Regions from separate parts of the Homo sapiens genome. Here region 1 is linked to region 2. The links come from fine-mapping of genetic effects on gene expression. A gene starts in region 2. The other region holds a variant in brackets. All regions are shown on one strand. Distances are between the middles of the regions. Region 1 overlaps CC2D2B (coiled-coil and C2 domain containing 2B). Region 2 holds the start of CC2D2B (coiled-coil and C2 domain containing 2B).

The links. PIP is the estimated chance that this variant, and not a neighbour inherited with it, causes the effect. A credible set is the group of variants that fine-mapping cannot tell apart.
Region 1: its variant is the best candidate, but not a certain one, in a credible set for the expression of CC2D2B in whole blood (TOPMed, PIP 0.83).

Annotation. Positions count from the first base shown.
Region 1 is chr10:95,972,840-95,975,756 of GRCh38, forward strand. CC2D2B (coiled-coil and C2 domain containing 2B) reads left to right here. Exons shown (of 35, transcript NM_001349008.3): 17 at 1,170-1,317. The region is part of intron 2 of ENTPD1-AS1 (ENTPD1 antisense RNA 1); the gene reads right to left. Among named protein-coding and RNA genes, the nearest start is that of CC2D2B, 66 kb to the left of the region's middle. The variant C/T (reference allele first, on the strand shown) is at 1,426.
Region 2 is chr10:95,906,539-95,909,455 of GRCh38, forward strand. CC2D2B (coiled-coil and C2 domain containing 2B) reads left to right here and starts at 1,437. Exons shown (of 35, transcript NM_001349008.3): 1 at 1,437-1,519. All of the region lies in intron 2 of ENTPD1-AS1 (ENTPD1 antisense RNA 1), which reads right to left. RefSeq lists enhancers at 1,464-1,653, 1,694-1,753.

The sequences.
Region 1 (2,917 bases), 66 kb after region 2:
GGTGCTCGCAGACATATGGGTTTGTCTTTGAACTGTATAGGGAAGGGAAGAAGAAAATGAGGGAGGGAAGGAAAGAGGGAGGGACAGAGAAAAGGAGAGAAGAAAGAAGGGATGTTTCTGTTAGTTGTTTTTCAATTGATTTTACTCCTCTTATACGGTTAAATGTAAGTTAGTGCGTCTCTGAGATCACTGTCATTCCTCTCCTTCTCCCCATTATTCCTTTCTTTCACCTTCCTAGGGGTTTGGAAACTACTTGGGCCTATTTGGTGAAAAGTAAGGAAGTATGAACAAGTGAGCAAGGAGGAGGGGGCGGGGGGAAATGGGCAGAGAACGAGGGAAGAACGGAGTTTGCTTCAAGTCCAGATGAAGCAGAAAAATAAGCTTATGGAGACCCGGGACAAAAGACTCAGGACTCAAAAAATTTAGGGAACACTGTGCACTCAGCAAAAGTTTTAAGAAGTATTGTTAAACTCTTTGGAGATTAGATGCAGAAGACTTGGGAATGTAAGGAAAGAGGAGAAAGAACAGCTTGCTGGCCTCTTTTTCTGCTGCCAATGGTCCTTTCTTGCTGGAAGCCACTCCCACAGAGAATGGTTAAGAAGCCTCCAGGCATGAAAGGAAGAAAATCATGATATTCATCTCTACATATTCATCTCAATCTTTACCTTCTCTTTTGTAGTCCTTGAAGGATCTTAGAGAGGAGATGAGGGAGAGCACTAAGATAAGAGTGGAGTTAGGGCCGGGCGTGGTGGCTCACACCTGTAATCCTAGCACTTTGGGAGGCCCAGGCAGGTGGATCACCTCAGGTCAGGAGTTCGAGACCAGCCTGGCCAACATGGTAAAACCCCATCTCTACTAAAAAATACAAAAAATTAGCCAGGCATGGTGGTTGACACCTGTAATCCCAGCTACTTGGGAGCCTGAGGCAGGAGAATCATTTGAACCCAGGAGGTGGAGGTTGCAGGGAGCTGAGATTGCCCCACTTTACTCCAGCCTGGGCATCAAGAGCAAAACTCTGTCTCAAAAAAAAAAAAAAAAAAAGAGTGGGGTTAGCACAGATCTTCCTTTGTGTTCCTAGAGTTCCACAAGTAAAACTCAGGAAAAAACCCACAATGTGCTTCAACTGCACTTAAAACAATTCATATGTTTTTAATGCCTTTTATAAACAGATGTGCCTTTTCTTCTTGAGGGAAATGGAACTGAAGAACTCTGTCTTTTGACATCAGGAAAACTTAGCTATTCTCTATCATGGAGCTTAGATGAAAATGGTCTTCCTCTGATACCTATGCCACAATCATTAAGATCTTCTTACTGCAGGTAATAAACTTTTATCTTTGAAAAATAATGCCAGGTCTCAGCAAAGCATCACACAAAACATATTATGTGTAAAAGAGAAAACTTGAGCAGCAATAGGAAGAGTTTAGT[C/T]TATTTGAATGTTGATTTATCTTTTATTTAAATCACTCTACTAAGGCAGTATGTGTATTTATATGTAAGAGAATGTGTCCCTTCAGTGCTTGGAATTATAGCCACACAGATGATGAGAGAGGCATTCCCAGAGTCCCTCACTTGTAGGCAAAGGTCAAGACTCCCAGGGACTTTATTTCTGGGGCCTGTATATCTCCCAGTCATTCTGGATTAGCAAAGAATCATTTATGCATTATCATCATTCTGGGAGTTCCCAGAAGGGTTGGGGTTAATTTTCAGATTAATTATTTGTGGGATTACTAGAAATAAGTACAGTAAATTCTATGAAAATGATGATAATGCTGGCTTCCATAATGTGCTATGTTTGAGGGAAATGGTAAATATAAAGGAAAAAGTTTATTTCATCATTTAAAATAATGAACAATGATAACAAAAAGATATCCTCTCCCCTCCACATCTTAACACATATTTTTAAAAATAAACGGAAATGAAAAGCTTCATATAACTTATGGCATTCTAGAAAGGGCAAAACTGTGGAGACAGTAGAAAGATCAGTGGTTGCCAGAGGTTCTAGGGGGAGATAAGAATGAATAGTTGGAGCACACGGGATTTTTAGAGTAGTGAAACTATTTTGCATAACATTATAATGGTGGATACATGTCATTACACAGTTGTCAAAACCTACAGAATTTACAAGACCAAGGGTGAACCCTAATGTAAACTATGGACTTTGAGTGACAATGATGTGTCAATGTAGGTTCATGGATTGTAAAAAAAGGTACCACTCCAGCGAGGGATGTTAACAGCTGGGGAGGCTGTGCATGTTTATGGGGATGGGGTACATGGGAACTCTCTGTGCCTTTTGTTCAATTTTGCTGCAAATCTAAAACTTCTCTAAAAAATTATGTTTTAAAAATATTATAGTTTTGAAAATTGTTATACATAACTGGATTAAATGGAAAATCAAAACTGAAATTAGAGACTGTTTAAAAAAGAACAGGGAGAACATTATATATAAAAACCAGTAGCATATGGCCAGAGTCATAGTAAGAGTTCATAAATGCTTTTCTTCGGTACATAAGAAACAAAGAGAAAAAAGCTAAATGGCAGTAGCACAAGGAGATCGTTGGTATGGACGAAACTGACATAGTGGGGGTAGTTTACTTACCAAGGAGTTTGACAATAAAAAAATGCTAAAAAATAACAGAAGACAAAAGAATCAAGGTACAGATTTCTTAAAAATTGGGGCCATATTTATCTTCTTAAAAGAAGTGATTAAAAGTGATGAGCTTACAAAAGATTGAAATCAGTGGGGAAAAAGACCCAATATATTGGAAAGAGTATAAGGTCCTTCAGAGTCAGGAAGGTATCAAACCAGAACCCAAGTGAATAACTGTGGTTCTGGAGAAGAGAAACTCTCTCTTCCTCAACTCAGGGAATGGGACAGTCATCACTATGAAAACAGAAATGGAACTTTGATGGATGTCCTTGT
Region 2 (2,917 bases):
CCAACATGGCACATGTATACATATGTAACAAACCTGCACGTTGTGCGCATGTACCCTGGAACTTAAAGTATGATAAAATATATATATATATAAATTTAAAAAAAGATATAGAGGGGTTTACATATGAGGAGTCTAGAAAAAGAGTTTACAGTTTCCAGAAGAAGGCAGATAGTGAGACGATCAGCAGATGGAGAAGGTGTGGGAATGAGGCTGCGAGAAGGGATAAATTATCTGGGTTGTTACCAAGTATGACAGAGACTATAGACAGGGTGGGATTTACGGTCTCAAATGAAACTGTGCCAAGCTGTCAGAGACACTGGGACTCTATTTTGCTTACTAAGGTTAAACACTAGTATTACTTTTGGTCACCATACTATTAAAAAATAAAGACAATCCTACGAAACTTAGGCAATTAATATCAGAATAAAGAGGTCAATAATGTTTATTCTCTATTAACATGTACATTTAGAAAATAAAAGCAAAGCTTAAAAATGCATGGAAGTCTTACACAAGACGACTGTTGGGGCATAATGCCTGACACAGAACGCAGTTAAACACTGTGGAAAGCCTGAATGAGTGAAAGCATACAAACCACCACCGTGCGGCTCTCTACACTAGCAAGTTTCCGAAGTTCGCCCCAGCCGGTTTCCCTGAACAAGTTCCCAACCGCATCACGTTTAGTTTATCTCGTTATTTTAACTCGGAGCGAGGCAATGGGAAAAAGAAAAACAATGAGAGCCGTACTCTGTTTATTAAGCGATGAATGACGACACATGGGTGAGCGTGTCTGGCATGCCCTATTTAAGACTTTAAACATAGTACATTAGTACGCTAACAGCAAGCTCTGGAAATAAAAGGAACCGCTTGCATATTTAGGGGGCTCTTTTGTAAGCCACAAAGGAAATCACCTGAAGTCAAAGCTCCCCTCTTTTCCTAGCAAGGCAGGGACGACGGCAAAGAGAAAGTAGGTCCCGGGGCGCTGCAACCCGTGCAACTTGCCGGCTGGCGTCCCCCGGCCTCGCGCCTCCACGCCCTGCGCGGGCGACCGCTCTTGCCACAACGGCGCCCCGCAGCGTCCTCCCCGGGGACGCCCGCTCAGCCGGGAGCTCGCGGCCGGTACTCACCCGCTGGGTATACTCTTCTTCTTCACCAGGACGAGAGGGATGAGAGACCCACGCCCCAGGCAACCCCGCTCTCAGGCCTCCTCCAGAACAGACCCCAGGGTACGCTACAACTCACACGCTCACGGGCAGAGGCGAGGGGCGGGGGTGATAGACCCCGGCGGCGAACAGACTTGGCGCACCGAAGATTCCCAAAGGCGCGTGCTCCGCTCCCTCTGGGTCCTGGCAGGCCAGGGGCGGCAGCGCGCATGCTCCTGGGTCGCCGCTACTTGCAGCCCGCGGGCGCCGTAGGGCTGGCGCAGGGTGCGGTGGGGCGGTTGGTGATCATCCTAGCCTGCGGTAGATGGTGCGCCCTGCCTTCCCTGCCCAGACGTAAGAAAAGTGCACTGTCCGTCCAGGTGAATGTCGGGCTGCTGGTGAAGGTTTCTCTGATTCTTCCCTGTCAGACATTCCCGCACTTTTGTGGAGCTCTGCTGCATGGGCAGAACTAGCTGGGCTGGGATAACCGGAGCCGGGGCCGCGCAGGCCGCTGGGACTTGTAGTTCGGGGGCCTGGCCGACCGGTTTGTTAGCCAATTTGGGAATGAGTAGAATTGAAAATCACTCGAGAGCAGTGTTTGATTTGCAAGAAATACGGGTCGGCATATTATTAATTCAGTGCCTACTGTGTGTGCTGAACACCTTGCCTTAGTCCTGATCTTCACATTAGGATAAGCAGGAAGATGAACTTGGAAGGTAGAATGTAATGAACAAAAATTCGCATTATGAACTACAAATGCTGTTGGAGATCAAGAGACAGAGTTAGAAAAAACTTCCTGAAAGACGTGGAGTTTGAATCAGCCTTAGAAACACGGAATGCTATCCATTTGCGGGGAAGTTGTAAAAATTAAAGGTTGGAGATGCCAGGGAGAATAAACAAGAACTCCATCCAGCTATAGTTGAGGGGTTATGTTGGAGAGTGGTCAATGTTGGAGAGTGGTCACTGCGGCTTAGATGGGGAAGTGATGTGAGAGTTTTTTGGCTTCACTTTCAGAAAGGGCCTCCTGGTTGACTTTCTCTCTAATTGAGGCTATAAGTATAGACACAGAGATACATCTTCAGGTTTGAATAAAAAACATTACAGTACTTGTTTAGAGCTTCTGGGCCTCCTGGCCAGTGGTTGCTCTAAGAATTAATACATTTTTATAAATCTTGTAATTCACCTTTGAGTAGCAAAACTACGTTGCATGGTGTGTGTTAGATGTAAATTTTCAAAATATAATATGATAGTTTTTGTAACCTGTTTCCACATTAGTTTTCATGTACCAGAAGTCCCAAGATAGAGAAGTGGGCCCAAATCTTTCTTGATCTACAGGAGCAGGACATGATGACTTGGGAACTGGTCCTCAGAGCAGTGGGTGATTTAGTTTTGTTGCCTTTCGAAGACTTAAATAAATTCACAGATCAGAAAATCTTTTGTCACGCCGTTTGTTCCTAAGTTTTGATTTTGGAAAACAAGATAACAGTTAAGTTAATTTTTAAACTTGCCAGTTAATGCAATACATGGAAGTCATAATGTTTTTTGTAGAACACTGTGAAATACTGCTATATTCCTCTTAACTAAGTAAAGAATTGTTAAGTTAAATTCCACTTCTTCCATATCCTAATAACAATAAAGGGTAGCTGGTGCTATATATTTAATAGATTATTTTTACAAAATGCTATTGTTGCCTTAATTACATCATAACTGTGAATGAGACCTTAATTCTGGACATAGCATCCTAATTCAAATTAAGTCTGGAAGGCATCATTTAGGAA